Linked DNA regions of Homo sapiens: region 2 is linked to region 1. Evidence: fine-mapped expression QTL. A gene starts in region 1. The other region holds a variant in brackets. All regions are shown on one strand. Distances are from middle to middle.

Region 1 (12,586 bases):
TTTGGGAGGCCGAGGTGGGCGGATCACGAGGTCAAGAATTCGAGACCAGCCTGGCGAACATAGTGAAAATCCATTTCTACTAAAAATACAAAAATTAGCCAGGCATGGTGGCACCTGCCCGTAGTCCCAGCTACTCGGGAGGCTGAGGCAGGAGAATCGCTTGAACCCAGGAGGCAGAGGTTGTGGTGAACCAAGATCGTGCCACTGCACTCCAGCTTGGGCAACAGAGTGAGACTCCATCTCAAAAAAAAAAAAAAAACAAACCAAAAAACAACACAGAATAATGACCCAAACAAATTTTTTATTTTTTTAGACGCTGTCTCGCTCTATTGCCCAGGCTGGAGTGCAGTGGCACGATCTCTGCTCACTGCAACCTCTGCCTCCCAGGTTCAAGGAATTCTCTGTCTCAGCCTCCCGAGTAGCAGGAATTACAGGTGCCCACCACCACGCCCAGCTAATTTTTGTATTTTCAGTAGAGACAGCGTTTCACCATGTTGGCCAGGATGGTCTTGAACTCCTGACCACGTGATTCACCTGTCTCGGCCTCCCAAAGTGCTGAGGTTACAGGCGTGAGCCATCACGCCTGGCCCCAAACAAATTTTTAAACACACTTCGCCCAAGCCAGGCACGGTGGCTCACGCCTGTAATCCCAGCACTTTAGGAGGCCGAGGCGGGAGGGTCACGAGGTCAGGAGTTCAAGACCAGCCTGGCCAACATGGTGAAACCCCGTCTCTACTAAAAATACAAAAGTTAGCTAGGCGTGGTGGCATGTGGCTGTAATCCCAGCTACTCGGGAGGCTGAGGCAGGAGAATTGCATGAACCGGGACCTGGGAGGTGGAGGTTGCAATGAGCCAAGATCGCGCCACTGCACTCCAGCCTGGGCAACAGAGTGAGACTCTGTCTCCAAACAAACAAACAAAAAAACCACTGTGCCCCATATTTGAAGAGTAAAACTCTAGAGCAAAATAGACATCGTTCCTGACTGCATAGAGGTCAGAGCATACTATGGGAAGAGATGTAAGTAAGTATGTGGTTATCAATCTGATGCGAGCTGTAAGAAAAACAAACAGGATGTTAGGAGAGAGACTAATGTAAGAATGGACTTGAGATGGGATGATCAGGGAAATATAAATCAAAATTGTAAATATAAAAACAAGACCAGACATGGCAGCTCATCCTATAATCCCAGCACTTTGGGAGGCCAAGGCGAGATGATTGCTTGGGCCCAGGAGACTAAGGCTGCAGTGAACTGGGATTATGCCACTGCTCTCCAGCCTGGGAGGCTACAAGACCCTGTCTCAAAAACAAACAAACAAAAAATACCTTTTTTGGGTCAAAAGCCCTCCTGGTACTTATTTATATGCACCAAACAAATATTTGCTTTAAACCCTCCAGGACCCTGAATGACGTCTGGTTTTGTTTCCTTTCCAAGGGGGAAAGTGAAGGGGGGTTTCCTATGGTGCCACTGGCTCACTGGCTGAAGGATCAAGCCCCCTTTTACTTCTCAGTGAGGAAAGCTGCAGCTTCCTAAAATCAGATTGGTTTTCTTACTAAAAATATCTATTTCTCCATATGATGCAACATAAACATTGCCTCGAAAATAAAAATACTCCTCAGAGACCATTAAAATGTATCATACATTTCAACCGTGTTATACAAATCAGACAGGCAAAACAATTCATCGGGCCGACCTAGAATCCACTCAGTTCAACAAACTTATGAAGAACCTCCCAGAGCTGCCAGGCACTGTTCGTGGTGCTGGAATACTGGTCATGTCCAGGGAACACTAGAGGGCGTATGAGAGCTTCTACTTTCAGGAAAATCAGTCGTTGAGTCAGGGAAGAAAACCAAACAGATGCATAAGGGGAAAAAAAGTTAACAGGGTAGAAAAGTACAGACTAGGAAGCAGAATGACCCTTCACTGAATGGGCCTTTTGCGTAAGGCCTGAGAAGCAAGCCGAGTGCCATTAGAGATGTGCTGACCAGGCATTCCTATAAAGGTGGCACAAGGTAGAAACACAGGTGTCACAACACACACATTCGGTTTCTACTGGTTCCCCTAACATGCAGGACTCGGGATTCGCTAGCTCAGCAACCCTATCAGGTGAAACAGGTATTAGCACTACAACAAGGAGGCTAAAGCTCAGAAACAAATTGCTTTCCTAAACTCAAAGTGCTACTAAGTGGTAAGGGTGGGTCTAAAACCTTCATCTTTAAACTGCAGTCTGGGGTTTACTCCAGTGCTTGAGCCACGTGTACCACCTAGAGGTTTATCACCAGCAAATGATCCCCGGATCTAGGTACTGTTTTCTTTCCCCCTTTTTTTTTTTTTTTAAGAGACGGAGTCTTGCTCTGTCGCCCAGGCTGGAGTGCAGTGGAGCCATCTCTGCTCACTGCAACCTCCAACTCCCGGGTTCACACCATTCTCCTGCCTCAACCTCCGGAGTAGCTGGGACTACAGGCTAATTTTTGTATTTTTAGTAGAGACGGGGTTTCACCGTGTTAGCCAAGATGATCTCAATTCCTGACCTCGTGATCCACCCGCCTCGGCCTCCCAAAGTGCTGGGATTACAGGCGTGAGCCACCGTACCCGGCCGGTACTGTTTTCTTTAGTGTGCTATTACAACAGACAAACTAAGACAGCTTATAGAAATGCAACTGGCATTGTAGGAGTCATACAGGCCCCCAATCAAGCTTTGGGGGGGGGGACACTGATACCCTAGTCTCTCAATTCTAAAACCCAACTGATTAACTATCTCATAATGACATTTCAAAAAAAGGAGGTAAAACTACATGAAACATGCAGATGAACTAAGGTGATTAGAGAGATGTCAAAATATGATTAAAATAATTATTAGGAGAAAATAGGATGGCAGTGAAGTGTAAAAGATGAAGCATTAATACAATTTTGGATTGGAAGTGACCTCAGAGTCGTTTTGTAGACGGAGTCTAGGCCCTATCAATGACTTATACAAACAGTGATAGAGCAGAGAATGGAATAAGAATTGATTCTTATTCCATGGTCCTTCAACTATTCCTAAAATTACACTTCTATACAGCAGTCATCATTTGACATACGGCCCTAGAAGATGGCCTGGTGTTCAAGTCTGTCTCATTCGGAGACCGGCTAGCCCCAAATCAACCCCATCCAGACACATAATGGATCACCCCCTGCATTTACTTAACATGCAGTATTGTAGCTAACAGGGTGATGGAGCGGAGGGAGGACACATGGTCCCTATCGTCAAAAGTGTGAGGAAGATTCTTAACCATCAGAGCGTTCTAAGGCTGACATAGTCGGGGAACTCCTGACCACGGAGAAGGATTTTGCCAATGGAGAGATTTGCCAATGTAAAGCTCATACATGGTACACAGAAACACGAAATAATGGGACCACGGCGATTTATCTGAAAGGATTTGCTCTGTAAGCCATGGGAAGGGCATTCCTGTGGACAGGGAGCTGCTTAGATGCCACACACACAAATCTCTTTATCACACAACCTGGCCACGAACCCAGGCCCTATAAACCCACAAACTGATAATCAGGTAAAGGAAAATCAGATTCAACCTCCTTTTTAAATAACCCAAGAGAAAAATCACCAACATCCCCCACCCACTAAATTCTCTGCTGAAAGACACGCAGACACCGGGACACTTCCTTCACACGCGTCTCTCCCTGTCAGAGTCCGCTACCCTCCATCCACCTCCACCTTCCCCACTACTGTCCCCTGGCATTTGCTGCGAGAATAAAAAGTTCACTGCATGAGCAGTTCAGGGTGTTTGGGAAAGCAGATGAAAATAAAGGCGCGAGAGCACTTGGAAATGATCATGGATAAAGAATCAAGCCCTACCCTACTCTCTTATTGAAGAAATATCTACCATATTCCCTTCACTCTCCAGCTCAGTTTTTAAAATATAATTATGTTTGTAAACAACATTAAAGTGGATTTATTTTGAAAAACTAATACAAACTATTAAGCTTGACAACTTGGAGATTAATAAATTAACCCATTCATTAAGGGTCTATGAGCACCTACTCTGTACCTGCCCGTGGGCGGACGAGATAACAAGAGACTCAAAAACTCACGAGTAACCACCCCAACGGCTGTGTGTGTGAAGGTTTCACCAGGAAGCAACATTCTCACGGGGCCTTTCTGAAGGACAAGAGTGTACGGGGTGGAGAAAAGGGGTGGAGGAATGCCGGGCAGGGCACGGCCGACAGGGACCAGGTATGGGAAGCTATTGGAGCCAGAGCTTGGGAGAGGGACCAGAATGTCGAATGTTTAGAGATTACAAAGTGAAAAATGGGCTGGAGTTCCCACACAAGCCGGGATTAGAGCGTTTGTGGACTCTAACCTGGGAATATAAGGCGCTCCAAGAGGGACAGGGCCACACCTCTGGTTCAAATTGCTAAACCTTCAGATACACAATAAATCTGTATTTACAGCAAGCGGCAATTTATGTATTTCAACATGCACACATTATCTGTAATTATTTCAGGTAAAAATGGTTTCCTCCTCTTTTGAAAATACTTCTTTTTACTACTAATTATCAATATTATAGGCGTGTTCTCAATATTAAAGACTAAAGGAAAAAAGTTATAGCTGGCAACTGCTTCCTCTAAAGATCCTACACAGCAAAGTTCAGACCTGTATGGCCATCCTCAACTACACTTTATATCAAACTGGTTTAAATCGAAAAAGGTCCACATCACAAAGAACCACAATCAATCAAATTAATTCACCTGCCCTCTATTCTAAGGAAAACTCCCCCCACTCCAGGTAAATTTCATTTGGCAAATTCTTAAAAATTAACTTCAAAGAACACATGTTCACCTCCCCAGTATTCCGAAAGTTCCACCACTTAATAAATCGTTAAGTTACTGTTCCAGACCCGGGTCCAATAAACCCAAATAGACTGAATTTCTCAGCACCCAACTTGTTTCTATCTTAATCCAGCAAGTTGCATCGAGTTGTCATTGTTCCTCCTTCCAAGGCGGAGGTGACAACGGTGCACATCATCCGCGAATACGTGGAAGGACAGACACACACCAGGGGACGCAGGGAGAGCGGATAAAGCACAAAGGGGACGCAGCGGCCGCGGGGTCGCCGGGCCACGGCCAGGGGCGCCGTCGGGGAGGAGGGTGGGCTGCAGGACGAGCTCGGGAGGGCTCCGAAATGCGCTCGGGCCAAAACAAAAACAAAAAGTTCAGCGCGGCAGTGGGAGCAGATTGGGCGAGACGGTTCACGGCTGCCCATTGGAGAAAAGGGAAAACAGAGTCCCCCAATCGCGAGCGGCGGGGCTGCTCCCCTCGTGCGGCCGCGGGCCCGGCCCCGACGCTGCCCGGCGGCCGCTACCGCTCCCTTCCGGCCGCGGCCACCACTGCAGGCCCCGCGCCGGCCCCGCACCGGCCCGGCCGCAGCCCCGCCCCCCGCGCCCGGCCGCTTGCGCCCGGCCCCGGCCCCACCCGCCCTGGCCCCGGAGCCCTGCGACCGGCCTGGGCCCGCGGTCCCCCACGTCCCTGCCCGCCCCGTCACCGAGGCCGCCCCCCGCACACCCTCGCCGGCGCCCGCCCCTCCCCCGACTCACCGCCTGCGCCGCCCCGCTCCTCCTCGGGGCGCGTCCCAGGCCCCGCTGCCCGGCCGCTGCGATGCGGGGCCGCGCCGCCGGGCCCCGCGTCCCAGTCCCCCCCAGAAAATTAATCACCAAAAATAATTCCAGAGAAAAATGGAGAGTAAAATCCAAGATGGCGGCGCGGGCCGCAGCACCGCTCGCTCCCTCCGCTGACGGGAAAAATGAGTCCCCGCAGCGTCCGAGCCCCCCGCCCCCAACCGGCCGCCGCCGCCGCCGTCGCGCCCCCCGCGCCCCCGGCCTCGGCTCGCTGCGCCCCCGGCGCCCGCCCCCGCGCCCCGCCACCCGGGGCCTCACCTCGCCTCGCGCACGGCCGCCCGTACGAAAACCGTCCGCCGGCTTCAGGACTCCGCGTCCCAGGTCCGTGCGCCGCGCGGTGCCGCCTCCGGTTCCCGGGCGTCCTCACCTCATCGCCCCGCTGCCCTGCCGCCCGCACCGCCGCCGCGTCGCCGCCCCCGGTGAGCCGCCTGGACCCCGCCCGGGCACGGTGGAAGGATACGAAAAGAAGGCCGCGGCCTCGACGGCGGAGGGACACCGTGCGGCGCAGCTGCCACAGTGTGCGCGCGCCTCCCGCCAGGCCCAGCCGCCGCGGCGCTTCCACGGGGCTCTGTGCGGGACGCGGGCACGCGCGGGGAGCGAGTTCTGTGCCGGGCGCTCCCGACGGCGGAGGGACAAAGGGCGATTCAGAGCGAGCCGTCGCCTCCCCTCGTGGCGGAGGGATTCGCGGCCGGCCGGTAGGCGGCTGGGATCCCTCCGCCCTCGCTGCCCTTTAAATCGCGGCTGAGGCGGCGTCGCCCGCGCCCCGCGGGCGCCACGTTAGGGTCCCCTGCGGCCCTTACGCGACCGCATTCCGGTCCCGGTCCCCGCGGGACCGCGGCAGCTGTCCCGGGCCCTGGGTCTTTGCACACCTGCCCCTACCAGGGACGGCTCTAGAGCCAGCCTCTCGGACTGCAGCCCTGGGGAAGGGGACCCCCCCCCCTCCCGCCGCGCGTCCCAGTTGCTCCGAGGGAGGTGGCCCCGGGCAGACGAGCGTTTTTGTTGTGGGAATGGGGGTCACTGGCAGCAGATGCACCCTAAGACCGTGTGGGCAGGCTGAGCGTTCCTGCGCGGAGCATGCGAGGGAGGAGGAGAGCGGGCGCGCCTTGGCCTGGCCCCCCGCGGGCCCCGCCGCCCCCAGCACCCACTATGTGCCCCGCGCCGTGCTCCGCTCCACTCCGGGTGTGCCCTGCGCGCTGGCCGTGCGATCCCTCCTCGGGGATCCCGGGCTGGCGGGGAGATCCTGAGGGACCGGGCCGCCTGCGAGCCGGGGAGCTGCGAAGCTTGCCTGGGCATCGATCTTGTAGTCCAGACAACAGAACGATGAGCGCGCTCCCGGCCCCTGCGGGGCTGCCCAGGGTCTCCGCGCATCCTCCCTCTCACGCGTCAGGACGACCCCCGGAGGTGGGGGCCATGTGGGTGCCACTTTACACCTAGGGAAACTGAGGCACAGGGAGTTCCGTGACCTCTATGACAACTAGTCAGGGCTTGAGCCAGAGCCCTCTTTCAGCATTCGGGTGAAAAATGCAGAATAAATCAGGAAGCGGGTGCGGAGGACCTCCAAGAAGTTGAGGTTGGCATAGGCGTGCACATGCCTGGAACTTGGTGCCGGCAGGTGCCCAAGGAAGCGCAGACCTGGAGTGTGAATTGGAGCGTGTTGGGGAAAGGGGGTGCCTAGGATATGGGCGGGTAGTGGGACCAGCCAGTGTCAAAGCCCTGGGAGGGGAGAGAGGCTGCCCTTGCCACAGAGAGGAGGCGGGCAGGGCAGGCAGCTCAGTCAGATGCCAGGAAGAGCCGCAGCCTGCCTTAGTTTTCCCCTGCGGCTCCAGGGCCATCATCCTCCACAAAGGATGATGAATCGAGGCTGTGGACGACCACCCAACACAAGAACTGGACTAAGTCCAAGTAACACTGACGCACAGCGCCTCCCTCGTTTGCCCTCATTCTCGACCTTGACTTTGGCTGGTAGACATGATGCTCATTACCGCCTTCCACAGAGGGAAACTGAGGCACGGTGACTCGCTGAGGGCACATGGCTGACGGAGGCAGAAGCGGGTCTCATCTTCAAAACAGAGCTCCTCCCACTGCCTTCACCTGCCCTATCAGCAGCTTCCTCCTTTTGGAGGCCGATTCGGGTGTGGGCGGTGGGCACAGCCCAAGCACTTCTCCTGTCTGCCCTTTCACTAAAAGCAGCGTCATCTGTGGCAGCAGAATCCACTCTGCCACGTTCGTCTTTGCAGACGCAACTAACAAATGATTGCTTTGGTGTTCTTGGTTTCTGGTTTATCAGAAACTTTCCAAGATTTTCGTAGTGCCTGGCTCCAAATACTCAACTTGCACCCCAGAAACACTGAGCCTGCCTTTGCCACCCACCACCACCGAATGCCTATGGGAGGCGAGCTCACTAGGGGAATACCATCTGCCTCTAAGTCGACCTTGGTCTCAGGTCCCAAGTCCAGCTATGCCTGAGCAGCCCTCCAGAGCCCCCAAAGCCGATGTCCTGCCCACTCCCAGCTTTCCAGAGCCCACCCCAGCATAGAGGTGCTCTCCATGTGCCCTTCAGGGTGAACGCCAAATCCTGAGTCCTGTGAAGCCCCCATACTTCCAAGATGCAGACACTTCCATGTGTTCACTGCCTGATGCCAAGTCAAGTGTTCTGGACATTTCCTTGCAAGGCTGGGCCCACAGCCTGGCAGGGATACAGATGAGCAAACCCAAGCCCAGCCTGCTCCCAGGCCCCCAGTTCTGTGTGCATTCCTCCCTCAATCCCCCTACGTTGCCAGCTGCTCTTCCAGCCTCAGCTGAGAGGCCCAGGGTGGGCCAGGGCTCCTGGCAGAGCTGAATTGGGGTTCAGGACCTTGGTGGAGCCATGCAGGGGGCTTGAGGCCTTTGGGGGTCCCCACTCAGGGAAGCCAGGGCTAGGCTGGGCTGAGAGCACAGCCCAGGAGAGCCCTTCCTAGGGAGACTCCCACAGGAGAGGCCAGTTGGAGGCTCCTCCTGCCAGCTGGCAGGGGAGGGAGAGCAGGAAGTAGGCAGCCAGGCACCTGCCCAGTCCTGTGTGTCAGGAGCCTTTGGCATTTACACTGGGAGAGCTCTAGGCACCCCAAAGTGGAAGAGCTGAGCCACAGAGGCTGGGGGGCCTCCCCAGCCTGGCCGGACCAAAAGGGATTAACAGCTCTAAAGAAAGACCGAGTCAGCGGAAGGGGCCCGGCTGGCCCCGGAAGCACCGTGAGGCTGGCCAGGAGTGCCAGCCTAGCCCGGAGCTGGCCTAGGAGTGGCACGCTTGCCAGGGCACTGACTGAGGCCATGGAGTCTATTTTGGTCTCTCTAGCAGGTCTGGCTCTGGTGTGTCCAGGGGCACTCCAGCCTAGTGCCACCCACCCTGCTATGCTCTCTCGCTCCCTTTCCTCGAGTGCCAGGTTCACTCAGTGACAGGATGGCAGGGATTCACTTGCTTTGATCCTGTGCTTACTGGGATGGCCCACAGGTCACGTTGACCCCAGAATTCCAGGCTGGAGGCAGGTTGCTTTTCATTGTAAAGCGATATGTTGGCTTTCGTGCTCCGCACATGCGTCTGCCCCAGTCCCCACCCCGCCCGGAAGCTAGGACTCCTCTGATGGGAGCAGGTGTCTGAAACCGGAGGGAGAGTGGGGCGTACCCGGCTTTCCCAGTGGCCCCTCTGGGCGGCTGGCGGGTTTCCTGGTCACATTCCTGAGCACCACTACCCCCGGCACCATTCTTGCTTTCCACCTGCCCCTCCACTGCCACTGTCCTTGAATAGAAGAAGAAACAGCCACTGAAGCCGGGCGTGGTGGCTCACGCCTGTAATCCCAGCGCTTTGGGAGGCCAAGGTGGGCATATCACCTGAGCTCAGGAGTTTGAGAACAATCTGGCCAACATGGTGAAACCCCGTCTCTACTAAAAATACAAAAATAACTGGACGTGGTGGCGCATGCCTGTAATCCCAGCTACTCAGGAGGCTGAGGCAGGAGAATGGCTTGAACCCGGAAGGTAGAAGTTGCAGTGAGCCGAGATCATGCCAGTACACTCCAGCCTGTTTTTTGAGACTCTGTCTCAAAAAAAAGAAAAAAGAAAAAGAAACAGCCACTGAAAGGTCAAGTGACACACACGAGACCCCTGGTCAACAGCAGCAAGACTGTACAGCAGCTGCCAACAGAGGTTGGCACGAGTCTGACCTGGGTTTGAATCCTAGCTCTGCAGTTTACCAGCCATGGGATTTGGGACAAATGATGTAGCCTGTCAGCCCACCATTCCTTTACCTGTGAAAATGTCCATTCCTTGGACCTGTCTTAGTAAGTTCCTCTATAGCTTTACAATTGTTTATGTGCTTCAGATGCTCAAATTCTCTCTCCAGCCTGGACTTCTCTGAACTTCAGACAACACTACTTCGATGCTTAATAGGCATTTCAAATATAACACGGCTAACCTGGGGGACACACGAAAGCAAAACCCTCTCCTCACACACCCTTCCACCTCTTCAAACAGGTACCGTTCCACCACTCAGGTCCAGGTCCAGGACATAGTTTTCTTTTTTTTTTTCTTTCTTTCTTTTTTTTTCTTTTTTTTTTTTTTTTTTTTTTTGAGACGGAGTTTCACTCTTGTCGCCCAGGCTGGAGTACAGTGGTGCACTGTCGGCTCACTGCCACCTCCACCTCCCAGGTTCAAGCAGTTCTCCTGCCTCAGCCTCCTGAGTAGCTGGGATTACAGGCGTGTGCCACCGCGCCCGGCTAACGTTTGTATTTTTAGTAGAGATGGAGTTTTGCCATGTTAGCTAGGCCAGTCTCGAACTCCTGATCTCAGGTGATCCGCCTGCCTTGGCCTCCCAAAGTGCTGGGATTACAGGCGTGAGCCTCCATGCCCGGCCAAGACCTAGTTTTCATTCTTCCTTTGTGGCTTCAGGGTTCTTTCTCCTTAGCACATACGACAGCTCTAGCATTCTGTATCTTTCAGTATTCATCCTAGGGCTGACTCTCCTTTTAGACTATCAGCTTCTCAAGGGCAGGGAGCTTTGTCTGTCTCATTCATTGCTGTGTCTTCAGCATCTGGAACCACCCCTGGGGACAGAGTGTTGAGGCTTCTATGCTTTTGCTGAAGGGAGGGAGGGAGGAAGAGGGAAAGATAATACTAACTTTCCAGGGTTGCTACAAGGATAAAGGGAGGTGCAAGGGGCTCTGTAATCACTCCCCAAATTCTGGGGGCTCAATCTTGCTTTGTTGACAAGGCTTCTCCACCACCCACCCCACAAGATGTGTAGCGTTCCAGCTCACGGGTGCCCTGGGGGTTGTGTGCTCAGCACCCACCTGGGGCAGTGGGACAGGCACCAAGAAAATTTCCCTGTCACTGAGGATGTTGTTCCTTTGGGATCCCATCACACACCTTTTCATCTCCCCTCCCCCAAATAAAACTCAGCCCTAACCAGCCCTCTCTAGAAGCAAACACAGAGAGGACTGACAGCAGCTGGCAAAGGTTTCCTCATGGGCACGGGGAGCTTTGTTTTTTTATTATTACTATTATTTTTTAATAATTTCTGGCCAGGTGTGGTGGTTCACACTTGTAATCCCAGCACTTTGAGAGGCCGAGGTGGGCGGATCACTTGAGGTCAGGAGTTTGAGACCAGCTTGGCCAACATGGAGAAACCCCCTCTCTACCAAAAATACAAAAACTAGCTAGGTGTGGTGGCATGTGCCTGTAGTTCCAGCTACTTGGGAGGCTGAGGCACAAGAATCGCTTGAACTCAGGAGGCAGAGGTTGCGGTGAACCGAGATCATGCCACTGCACTCCAGCCTGGGTGACAGAGCGAGACTCCATCTCAAAAAAAAAAAAAAGAAACAAAATCAAAAAAATGAGATGTTACAACTGAAGCAGTTTTGATTTAACCCATTATGGGTGATGTCCACTTGGGTTACCCGTCATGTGGTTTAGGGGTGTCCAGGCTTCCCCATCGTCAGGTCACTTGCTTGCCCATTGTCATAAATAAGTTTTCTGTGGAGAGGTTCACTGAGGGGATGTGAACATCATTCCTCACCACATTTTATATATATATACACACACACACACACACACACACACACACACACACATATATATATATATATTCTGGTATATATATATATATTCTGGTTTATATATATATATTCTGGTATATATATATATTCTGGTATATATATATTCTGGTATATATATATGTGTATATATATGTATATATATGTATATATATATGTGTATATATGTATATATGTATATATATATGTGTGTGTATATATGTATATATGTGTATATGTGTATATATATGTGTATATATATGTATATATGTATATATATATGTGTATATATATATATCAGAATGGATTTTTGGGTTCCTAGTTTTGTTCATTTGGTGTCTGTTCCTTCCTCTCTCCTCTTCTTCTTCCACCCTTTCTTTCTTCCTCTTCTCTTTCTCTATTTATTTCTCTCTTTCCCTCCCACTCTCTTTATTTCCTCCTTTACAGTTATTTGTGGTAGCTTTATTTATAGTAGCTGTAAACTGGAAACAACCCAAATGCCAACCACCAAAAGAATGGGTAGACAAATTGTGGTCTCTCCATGTGATAGAATCCTGTTCAGAAATAAAAAGGAACGGACCACTGTTACAAACACCATAGATGAATTTCAGAAACATTACATTGAGACAAAGACGTCAGAAACCATAGAGTAAAAATTGCTGGGTTCCAACAATGAGGTCGTGGAAGAGAAAAATCCCCTAATCTATGGTGATAGAAGTCCAAGGGGTCATTAGCTTCTGGCAGCTGGGATTGCCCATGAGGGGACATGAGAAACTGTGGTGAGATGGAAATCTCTGTTTCTGAGGGCTGATTGCCAGGGTGTGTATGTTGTGAAAATTCTCAAACTGTAAATCTA
Region 2 (12,197 bases), 49 kb before region 1:
ACTTTTTGCAGTTCTAAAGCTGTCTTTTGTTTTGAAGCTATCTGATGTCACAACTGAACAACCGACGGGTGAAGGAGCACAGTCTGTGTAGCTCACAGGCACGCCCACAGTGCCACTGTGCTCACCCTGGTCAGAATGGGGACCCATCAAATCTGGTACCGCGTCGTCTTTTCCAGGAGAATCGTGCACTGGAGTAGATTCCTCTATTTTTGCAAACTGTTTCACAAGTTTTCCTTGTCGTGACTTCTTTTTGGACATGCCTGTGTCACTCTTATGACACTTTGCCTCCCCTTTTTGTGCAGTCTCATGAGCCAGTTCTTCCTCCTGCAGCACAGGAGCTGGCTGCAGCTGTTCACCACTGTCGGGGCAAGGTTCCGTCACACTGCTTTTATAGCCATTCAACGTATTTGGTTCAAGCTTGATGTCAGAGGCCTCCTTCAGATTTGTTCTTGTCCTCACTGACCGCCGAGTTATGTAGGTGCAGGGCGAGCTCTCCCCCTGCGAATGAGCACCTCTCACAGGATTCTGTCTGTGTTCTCTCGCCGCGTGTCTAGTCAAGCACCCGCTGGCAACTGCGGCTTGGGCTGGTCCCTCTGGCTCCTTATCTTTTTTAATGGGCAAATTTTTATACAGAACTACTTTAGGCTCTTTCAGTACTAAGTTTCCCATTTCGAGTTTTCTTGAAGCATTCTTTTGCTCCAGCCGCTTGCAATGATTTCTCAATTTTATCTTTGAAAGTAAAGGCTTTGCAGGCTTCTTCAGTTTCTTTGGTACCCTGGAATTATTTATATGAGTTAGCTTAGATGAGGTAGAGTTGGAAGAAGCTGGAATTCTTGACATAGATTGCCTCGTTAACGTTCTGCTCTTGCTATTCTTTTTTACGCCAACTGAAGATTTTCGGTTAGAAGCTGTAAGGTTAAAGAGAAAAAGGTGAAAAGCCTTGGTAACAGCAGAGTTCAAGAAAAGAATGCCCAAACCCAGGCTATTAGCTACAGCACGTTTAGATTACACAAACGCCAACACCACGGCTCCTGCTGCAGATTCTGCCAGCGCACCTGCATTCCCTACACTGCTTCTCTTTGAAGTTCTTTTCTAATTTATGGGGCATCTATTCATTTTTGAGGTAAGTAGTTGCACGGTTAAGGAGCTTTTCACAGCAGGGACCTAGATTCCACTCTAAGCTTCTTAATCTGTCGTGACACTGGCCCAAACGAACGCTTTCTTCTCCTGATTTAGTAGTTTCCCACATAAAAGATTTCAAAGAAAGTTAACATGGTTTTTTCCTTTCACAGATTCTCCTTAGTCATTTAAAATGTTTCTAAAATCCATTGCTCATTAACCTAAAGGAAGTACAGCACTTGGCCATTAACATAGAGTAGAAATAGAATACTCATGGGCTCTAAGGAACAAATTCTATCGCAATGGTTTCAAACAAGAAAAACAGATGCTAAGAACCATATATTATCACTCTGAAAAGTACAGTCACTACCGAAAAAGAAATGCACTATTCTAAGTTGTCCCCTTCAACTCCGTGAGGAACAGAAGAGGCAACCAGTGGGCTGTCAACTTAGAAGAGCTGCAAAGCTTACTCAGCCCCATCCCTTCAGTGACGGCCAGATGCCAACAATCACAGTGAAGGAAGATGCACGCTGCTAGAATTGTACACTCTCAGGACAAAGGGAGATCCAACTTCTTTCCTCCAAGGCCAGGATAGAAAAGGGTTACAATGACCCTAATGGTAATGACAACCTGAGTAGTGATGAATATGATTCCATTTGAGAATGAGCGTATTCTTATCCACTGGAATTATACAGAACTACTAGGTAGAAAATATTTTTTAAAATATAAGGATATTTAGATAATTCTTTTGCTACAGAATTTCTTTATGCTTACGAGGCTTGCCTACAAGGTGGATCGAATAGACGTGCTGTCAATATAAAGAATAAAGTTGAATGGCTTCTCAAAAGGCTTCATTTGTGACTCAAGCTTAAGCTGCTCCTGTAGTGTCTCTGACCTTGCCACTGACTTTCTGCTATGTTAATTTTTCCTCTGTATTGACATTCCAGACTATTATTTATAGAAGTTGTTACACAAGTCAGTTTCTCAATTACTTAGTTCTTGCAGGTCCAGTTGAAAAACTTCTTCCTAATCAAAACACTCCATTTACAGATTCACTAGAGAAGCCACGATAACAAAACGAATCATCACCACCTCTCATCAGAACAGGGAGGATAAAAACAATAAAACATGGGTAAGCTCAGCACACTGCCCAACCAAGTGAGGACCAGGATCCTGCAGAGAAATCTGTCGCTTTCTACATGCCTCAGGTTGCCAGGGCAACTGCCATTCCTTCCGCCCAGCTAAGCAAGTAAGTTACCATAAGTTCAGTTTTTATTGAGAGAGGAGCAAGAATGCATCACAACATTCCAAAAATATCAAACCACCAAGAATAGAAGGCTCTGCACCTGAGGTCAGGAGTTCGAGACCAACCTGGCCAATATGGTGAAACCCTGTCTCTACTAAAAATACAAAAATTAGTCGGGCACGGTGGTACGTGCCTGTAATCCCAGCTACTGGGGAGGCTGAGGCAGGAGAATCACTTGAACCTGGGAGGCAGAGTTTGCAGTGAGCCAAAATCGCACGATTGTACTCCAGCCTGGGTGACAAGAGTGAAACTTCCTCTCAGAAAAACAAAAACAAAGAAGGTCCTGCACGCACAGACTGGCTCATAAATGGCTTCAGGGTACATAAACCAGCAGAATTCACAGCAAAGGGATTCACAGTTTGAAACAAGAACATACTTACACATGTGGGCTGCTACCAAGGTGGCGCCTCTTTTTAGAATAGTAGGAGTAGTGAACTTTGAATGTGATTCAATTTGAGAACGAGTGATTTATTATCCACTGGAACTATACAGAACTATGTGATAGCAAATTTTTTTTTAATAAGAAATTTAGAAAATAAGAAAAAATAGGGAACTCTTCGGCTAAAGGGTTTCTTTATGCTTGCCTACAAGGTGGACTGAATGGACGTGCTGCCAATATAAAGACACTAGTGAAGAAAGGACTGCACTGCTTGGCTTCCCTTTGCTTGGCTCTCTCAGATGTGGCTACGATGATCCTTTGCTCATTCTATGCCTCCTCAAGGACTAATTTATGACCAAACTTAGTGGTTTCCAACCTTTGATTTCTCCTCTTTCCATTCCACTCTCATGACGTACCTGCAAGCACCCTTACACAACACTCACATCTATGTCATATTCTCAACAGCAATCCCCGCCATCTGGATCCAGCCTGCTCCTCCAATGAGACAGCCTTTGGTGATCTGACAACTTCTTGTCGTCAAACCCAGCACACACTCCTCAGCCCTTCCCTTTCTTCATTTCTCTGAATGTGACACTGATAACCACTTTTTCTTGAGAAAACCTTTCTTCTCTTGGCTGTCAAAGAGAGCGCACTCTCCTGGTTCCCTTCTCCATCCCTGGCACCCTCCTTCATCGGCCCCTTAGACTGTTCTTCTTCAGGTCTGTGTAGTCCTAGGCCCCAGGTGACAAGCACCCATTCTCGCACGGCTATTACCACTTACAGGCTGACAGTTCCCGAACTCTGGCCAGACCCGCTCCTAACTTACAGAACCAGGTCACCAAATACTGACTGTCTCTAAGCCCCTAAATGGAACTCACCATCAAGTCTCCTGACGACGTCCCCTTTCGAGGTCTCCATCTTGGTCAATATCACCACCACATGCCCAGCTGCCAAAGCAGAAAGCTGGAGGTCCTCCTTGACTCCTGCTCTCCTGAACTGCCTCACCAAGCCAATCACCATGTGCCGTGGAGTCCACCCCTGCAATGTCACTGCAACCTGTCTACTCTTCCCTGTCTCGAAAGCCACAGCCTCCTGCATGAACTATGGCAGTTTTGTTTTTCCTATTGTTTTCCCAACAATCCGTTTACCACCACATAGCCAGGATGACTTTCCTAGTGTATCATGCAGCTTCTGGGCTTTAAACCTTTCAGCAACCTAATGCCCTAAGAATGAAGTCTAGAATTTTAACCTGTGCTCACATCTCTTCTTCTTAGCCTGTACTCGCCATGAAGAAAAGCTTTGACTCAAACTCCCCTCTGTCTATAGAGCTGTCTGAAAGGCCCTCTGCTTTGAATAGGCTTCACTTGGCCAACTTCTCATCCCCCTGTAAGACTCAGCTTAGGCAACACCTCCCTGAGGGAGCCTCTCGGGACTTTCTCTGCAATGCCTTTCCTATGTCTTCTCACAGCACCCAAGAAGCTCCTTCCTTGGTACTTCTTATTTTCACCCGTTGGATGACTCCCATTTTATGGTGATTCTGAATTCGGCTCTCCCCATCCCATCCCTCCTTCCAAAACATTCACTGTTGACAACAGAAAACCAAAGCACTTTTATGTGTTTGTCTCTAAACTAACATAAACGCTCCATTTTTGAGCACAAAATGGGTATGTATTTGATGCTATGTATTACATCAACACAGAGATTTCACTTACATGTTACCAATGTATTCTAATTTTGTTTGAAAAGCATTATCTCATCAAAAGCCCTGTCAAAAGGTATGCTCATCAAATCAAAGGAAAAAAAAGACAGGCAAAGAATTTGAGAAATGTGACAAAGATGAGGACCCAGTAGAGTGACAAGAGTCCTTCACTGTCCAAAGAAGCTGCACTGTCCTGGCAGGGGTTGAGAATTTCAGACAGTGAAGGCTAAAGGAGGAAGACAGTGGCCACAATGACAAACTAAAAGTCAATGATTT[T/TAA]AAAGTCCATCAAGAAACCAAGGACTATGACCTAAGTGGGGTCAGATGCACCTGTGTTTGAGCTTGCTGTGGCACTTATATGCCTCGTATGACTCTTCCCCTAGGGGCTGGGACAAATCTCAAATACATGGACCTGGACTGTAATTTTAGGTGGGGGTACACATTCTTCTCAGCAATTACTACATGCTAGGTGCTGTGCAAAATGGCCACATTCATCCTAATGAACGCCGTTGGAAGGGAAAGCGATTAAAGCTATGTGAAAACCAAGCTTACACGAACTAGCATGCCTAAGGTCATCCAGCTGGTGAATGGCAGAGATGGGACTTGTTAGGCCTTCCTGAGCATTAAAATCACGCTTATGCTGCCTATAAGGCATATACAGAAGAATTATGGTGTTGGCCTCAACTTACGGGTAAAGGCCCCACTGCATGGCTATTATGGTCATTTCAGGGTGTCCTCAAAATCATAAGGCAGGGTGGCACAAGACTTCCAGTCAGACAAAAGAGCTGTGACCGACACCAAAGCCTTCCTGAGCACTCAGGCCGCACTGGAAATGCACAATCAGCGTGAACTAAGATAATACAAGGGCCACAGCTGAGCATCTCCAGAGCTGGAGGATCCAGAAGGCCTCTGACAGGACTTTAAAGACCTCGGTCTCAAGGAGTTTACTTGGCACAAGCAGCTTTCATCTGACATGACTAGCACAGACTGCCAATGGCTACCTGGAACGGGGTGTTAGAATTTGGAAGCAGCCCGAAGGCTCAGCAGAAAAGTGTTCAGATCAACTCTTGACATGAGTGACAGGGCAGGAGTGAGGAGCAGCGCCCCAGCCTCTGCATCTAGGACAGGTGCTCCATAGTTAAGATCAACTTCTCCCTCTGGCCGATTCTTCTGGGGCTTGTCCTGACTTGTGGCACCTGCAGAGACCCGTGTCCGCATCTTCACAGACCGCTCGCGAGCCTCTCTCTGGTCTCACCTTCCCTATCACAGCACTAACTTCAGAGGGGGCAGCCCAGTCAGCGAGGCATAAGAGGCCTGAAAAACCAGAATCCTCCAGTCCTGGCATTCTAATTCAGACCTGTGGACTGGATTTGTGAAAACGGATTCCTTGTTGTCTCTACTTCTGGATGCTAAAGCAAAGTCACACCATAGCTCTCAAGGTACTTTCCGAAAAAGCACCTGTATGGAAATTTTTCTTCCAACTACTCAGAACATTTTTTTATACATGTGTTCAAAGAAAGCAGTTCCTCTGTCAGCTGCTAAATTCTAAACGAACCACATGATAAAGATGAGCAGCCACACAGAAAAAGCACTCCGCAAACACATACACAGCACATGCACCCACCACCCTGGGAGGAGGGACTGGCAGTGCTGGCTTTCCTGCAGGATGTGGCTTCCAGAACCTTTCTTTCAGACAGGTGGAGGGGATGGCTGAGACAAACACCAAAAGAAATACAGCCTAAGAGAACGCATGTAAGAACTCAAGAAATCCTTATGTGAACATGACTTAACATACAATGGTCTCAGAGACAACTAAAGCCTTGAGCTCCTTCAGAGAGAGCACTGAGCCATGCCTATCCACTCTGCCCATGACCTCAGAGTTAGTCATACTGATCCTTGGATTGCTCCAATCATGCTGCAGAAAGGGAATTTGAATAAGCCAAGCACCCCAATATCAGCAGTCCCTGCAAAATGTACACCTTTCTTCTGTAATGCTGAGACTTCAGCTTAAAGCGATTATTCAGTCCCTCTGAACTTGAAAGCCTGTGCCTCCAGTTTGTTCTGCTTACTTGTGCACCTGTCTTATCCTGGAGCTAAGTAAGGCATAAGCTCCCTGAGGAAAGGGCCCAAGTCTCAAACATCTTTGTATGTCTTCAAGAACTAGCAGGATTTCAGTAAGTATTTAGTTTGTTAATATATATTCCCAAATATTTGGTTTAATAAATATTAATAGTTAAATATTAGTACACCCAACATCTTCCAAAAATTATTTGTATTCTTATCTTTTAAACTAAGTAGTATATTGAGTTCAGTAGCTATACACCAGTAATAAAGTTACTACTTAAGCATAAAACACCTACATCACATAGCCATTCAACATAGGCAACTCTGTGGCTGTCTCCATATACAGATGGCAGCACGAACCTAAGTGTTTTTGTTTAAAAATCACAGGTCTCTGGCCGGGTGCAGTGGCTCACACCTATAATCCCAGCACTTTGGGAGGCCAAGGCAAGGCGGATCACCTGAGGTCAGGAGATTGAGACCATCCTGGACAACATGGTGAAACCCCGTCTCTACTAAAAATACAAAAATTAGCTGGATGCGGTGGCACGTGCCTGTAATCCCAGCTACTTGGGAGGCTGAGGCAGGAGAATCGCTTGAACTTGGGAGGCAGAGGCTGCAGTGAGCTGAGAGTGTGCCACTGCACTCCAGCCTGGGGACAGAGCGAGACTCCGTCTCAAAAGAAAAAAAAAAAAAGACACAGGTCTTACTATGTTGCCCAGGCAGGTCTCAAAACTCCTAGGCTCAAGTGACCCTCCCACCTCAGCCTCCCATGTAGCTGGGGCTACAGGTGTGCCACCATGCCTGGCTTTTAAGTGTTTTTATGTCTGCATTTATAAAATGGGCTTCACAAGTCTCCAGTTTCACCAAGGAACCAGACTCAGAAAACAAATGGTCGTTATGCTGCATTTATTATGAGAATCAACAGTCAACAGTTAATGATTGACTAACTCTTGTTGTTCACTCTGGACATTAACGAAAAAGACTGGAATAGGGCTACAGCGCTGCTTTTATGCTACACGGGTTATGCTTGGACTCTGACTCCCAGCAGCAGGTAGATTCAGGAATTCATGGCAGTGACATTCACCATCATGGGAAACACCTTCCCTTTTCTTCAGGATTCTCTGTAGTGGAAGAGAGCACCCAGTGTTGGGCTGAAAACATCTGAAAGTAGGGAGAAGAACCTAAAATAATCAGTATCTCAGAGGGCTCTAAGGTGCCAAGAAGTCTCACTGGACATTTAAGTGCCAACAAAGGCATACTTTCGGAATCGCCAAGTCAAAACTTTCTAACTTCTGTCTCTCTCAGAGACAAGTGAGACTCAAGAGTCTACTGCTTTAGTGGCAACTACAGAAAACTGGTGTTACCCAGAAAAACAGGAGCAATTAGAAATGGTTCCAATATTTCAAAGCTCCGCAAACAGGATGTGCTTTCCTTTGCCCATTTAGGGTTTCTTCTCTTTCCTTTCTCTTTGTTTAGTCTTCGTTCTCTTTTTCAGTTTCCATCAGATCTTGCCCCCACACACCACTGGAATCTCAGAGGTTGCTTCTTTCTCCTTTCCATCTTTACTCCTACTTTCTGGAGTAGCCAATACAGCATGTCACAATACGGCACTGTTCAAAATGCTCCTCTATCACAATTCTGAGTCTGGTACTGGTGGTCTGCTGAACTGAGTCAGTTCGTTTTGAAAAAGGTCAGCAAGCAATGAAAAGGTGGAAGCCTTAAGGCCAGAAGCTATGAATTCCCCAAGTCCATCATCTTTTCTAACAAACTGGCTAGGCACTGGAATGTATAGAGTCTAATTTAATTCTACTCAGTCCTTTTGTCTTCTTGCAGGACTTAGCGACATCATCACAGTCTCTAACACCTTGAAAATGTTTAAAACATATGATGACCTTGGAACATATGATGAAGAACTCATATCCAGTTACCAAGGTATTCAAGAAAAATAGTCTAGAGGACGGTACTGAAGTTAGAGATGGGATACAGACTGTGCCTCTACTCAAATCACGTCTAGAGCCTTGAAGTGCAGCCAAAGCTCACAAGTCCCAGTCTCTCTGAGTATTTAAAAGTTTAAAACTACTGAAGCACACTTTATAAAGCAAATTGTGTGAAAATACTTTTAAAAGATATGCTTATCAAATCTCCCTTACTTACTTGCATTGTTTTTTTCCTGAGTGGTATCTGCATCAGTGTTAGAGCTGACAGATTGACTGTCTGAATTTTTGCTGCTGTCACCTAACTTTTTAAGCCTATTTAAACGTTTATCTGTTTCTCTGAGTCCATATTTGCTATTGATAACAGGAGCAGGCGCAGGCAGTCCCACTCTGGATTTAAAAGCACCAGTGCCCCGTCTGAAAGAGAAAATAGCACAGGTTAAACAAATAGAACACACTTTCTTATAATAAGCTTAACTGCTGAGGGTACTTGGCTACAGGTTAACAGATGTGATGAGCTGCTGAGGCCTTAATCACCACTGGAAACCGAAGACTAGAACTCACAAAGGAAATTAAGTATCTATATTATAAAATTAACTTTAAATCTATATTTAAAATAATAAAACAACTTGTTATGACTATTATCAATCATTAATTGCCTATGAGAAACTACTGGACCTTGTAAAATTTTTTCCTTTTTTTTTTTTTTTTGAGACAGGGTCTCACTCTACCGCCCAGGCTGGAATGCAGTGGCACGATCATGGCTCACTGCAGCCTCAACCTCTTAGGCTCAAGAAGTCGTCCCACCTCAGCATCCTGAGTATCTGGGACCATAAGCGTGTAGCACCACCACCAGCTAATTTTTAAATTTTTTTTTGTAGAGATGGGGTCTCACTATGTTGCCCAGGCTGGTCTCCAACTGCTGGGCTCAAGGGATCTTCCCAGCTGGGTCTCCCAAAGTGCTGGATTTACAGGCGTGAGCCACAAAGTCCAGCCCTTTAATAAACATTGCCAGATTACTTTGCCAAAGGGATAGAGCAAATCATGGTCCCACTAGCATGGTGTGAGTTCCTGCTTCTCCACATCCTCATCAACGGTACATTGTACTCCTTAAATTTTACCAAAGTGGGCCAGGCATGGTGGCTCACACCTGTAATCCCAGCACGTTGGGAGGCTGAGGTGGGCAGATCACGAGGTCAAGAGATAAAGAGACCATCCTGGTGAACATGGTGAAACCCTGTCTCTACTAAAAATACAAAAAAAAATTAGCCCGGCGTGATGGCAGGCGCCTGTAGTCCCAGCTACTCGGGAGGCTGAGGCAGAAGAATTGCGTGAACCTGGAAGGTGAAGGTTGCAGTGAGTTGAGATCGAAACTTACACAGAGCAAGACTCCGTCTAAAAAAATTTTACTTTTTGCCAAAGTGATGAGTGAAAATGAATACCTAATCTTGTTTTAATCTCATTTATGGCCATTTTTTTCCTGTGAAGCATCTCTGCATCTCTTTTTCCTTTACCTTTTTTCCTATTTGACTATGTCTTTTCCCTATAAGCTTATAGGAGCTTTTTGTTATTAGAATTTTTTTTTTTTTTTTGAGACACAGTCTTGCTGTGTCACCCAAGCTGGAGTGCAGTGGTGCGATCTTGGCTCACTGCAACCCCTGCCTCCTGGGTGCAAGCGATTCTCCTGCTTCAGCCTCCTGAGTAGCTGGAATTATAGGCGCGCACCACCACATCTGGCTAATTTTTGTATTTTTAGTAGAGACGGGGTTTTGCCATGTTGGCCAGGCTGGTCTCGAACTCCTGACCTCAGGTGATCCACCTGCCTCAGCCTCCCAAAGTGCTGGGATTATAGGCGTGAGTCACACGTGCGTGGCCTTTGCTTTAAATTTTCTAGAGTAAAATGTGCAGTACTTATGAACATATTACAATTACTACTGTCAGTACAGTGTAGCAGAGAAACATGCTTCAAATGTATCCTGGAGTGTCTAGCGCGACTCAGTGTCTCTGCACACGTGATTCCGTCCATTCTCACTTCTTCACGGAGCCTCTTCCTTTTACCCTCTGGCTCTCAGCACAGTGTGTGTGTCCCCTTCACTGAACTGCCCTGACAGCTGGCACTGTGCTGGTCTTGTTTATCCTGCATGCACTTGGCCTAACATTAAGTAACTGTTCAGTTAATATGTAATGAATAATGGAATGAGCTCCTAGATGCATCTTCCCAGCTAATTTCTGTAAAGGCAGAAACAATTTGGTGTTTATGAGAACTTCAAGAATATATGCAGCCAATCTTGAAATCAAACTGCTCAAACAGTCTGACAATAGCCATGGCCACTATTCTCCATCATGCTGTTCCATTTAAAAAGGACTTACACACGTTTCTATCTACTTCTCACACTAACCTTGTGGAGTAGGTGGGATTATCCTCATTTTCACCAGTGAGAAAACAGAGGCTCATGAAAGAGAACTAATCTGCTCAAGGAAAATGACTATACCTGCAGTTCTAAACCAGGGAAAGAGCTGTTTCGGTGTTGGTTTGGAATCCTCAGTATGTGGTTAGGTGTTTTCAGGACCGCCTCCAAAAACTTCATTATATATATTTACTCTATTCATTCATTTACCAAATATTTATCAAGGACTTACTATGCACCAGGGTACTGTTCTGTATTCTGGGGATATAGCGGAAAATGAAACAGATACAAGCCCCTGCCTTCATGGAGCTCATATTCTAATGGGAAAATAACCAGAAACCAATTATTGTAGTTAACATTTGTGTATTAACTGTGTGCTATTCTACATGCTTTACAGGAAATAACAAATTTAGCCTTCACATCAACCCTACAAAATAGGTTCTGATGTTATCCCCATTTTACAGATGGGGAAATTAAGGCACAAAGCAGCTAAGTGACTTACCCTACACATCACATAGCTAATGAAATGCAGAGTTGCAGGATTCCAACCCAGGCAGTCTGATTTCAGATGATAGGCACTTAACTGTTATACTGTTTCCTCTACAAAATGATTTTGAAGAATTATTGAACTATAATTAAACTACTTTAAAGGGTATTCTCTGGACTGGTCCAAGATCTAACCAACATGTGAATAATTTTTATGTAGAAAAAGATAAATTTTATGTCCCTCTGCCCTGGTAAAAATTCAGCAGCACTAGGAACTGGTTTTCTGCCACATCTTTATGGCAAGGAGCCCACTCAGTGCTGGGAGAGGGATGGCTACGGTAGCACTGTGACTTGATGACTCCGTCCTCTCTCACCACACAGTTGGAAATCCCTGGCTATCCAGAAAGGAGGGAAATGGCAACTGGGGTATCTGCCCACTGCAACCTCTAGGCTGGCTATTTGTAGGTGTTTTAAAGTGGGAGAAGTGACACTAATAACTCTGATCATAACTCCAAAAGCAATATGAAGTGGAAAGAATGAGGACTCTGAAGTTAGGCTGACTGGGGTCTGATACTTATGTTCTGGTACTCGCAATGTGGGCACCTCCTAGCTCTCTCATGAATATCTGTGAGAACTGAACAAGGTGGTGTGAGTAAAGTGCCTGGCACAGTGCAAGATGTGCAAAATGGACTCCAGGTTTCCTTCTCTGTGGCCTGTGTGGTCTGTACTGCCTTTGAGGGGACTCTTCCTGCAGCCCTTGCCTGCCTGAGCCTGTGACGCTCCCTTCATGGTGCTCTCACACACA

Which allele goes with the higher level. Positions count from the first base shown, and alleles are read on the strand shown. Sizes are in standard deviations (SD) of each study's normalised expression.
For the expression in prefrontal cortex of the gene that starts at base 5,749 in region 1, TAA is the low allele of the variant in region 2 and T is the other (small effect, 0.22 SD a copy in ROSMAP).

The links. PIP is the estimated chance that this variant, and not a neighbour inherited with it, causes the effect.
Region 2: its variant is the best candidate, but not a certain one, in a credible set for the expression of KMT5B in prefrontal cortex (ROSMAP, PIP 0.54).

Annotation. Positions count from the first base shown.
Region 1 is chr11:68,207,548-68,220,133 of GRCh38, forward strand. It overlaps KMT5B (lysine methyltransferase 5B), which reads right to left and starts at 5,749. Exons shown (of 11, transcript NM_017635.5): 1 at 5,591-5,749. RefSeq lists silencers at 4,986-5,455, 6,041-6,480, 6,591-6,730, 7,915-8,209 and an enhancer at 6,427-7,129.
Region 2 is chr11:68,158,264-68,170,460 of GRCh38, forward strand. KMT5B (lysine methyltransferase 5B) reads right to left here. Exons shown (of 11, transcript NM_017635.5): 10 at 8,719-8,915; 11 at 1-908. Among named protein-coding and RNA genes, the nearest start is that of CHKA-DT, 42 kb to the left of the region's middle. The variant T/TAA (reference allele first, on the strand shown) is at 4,780.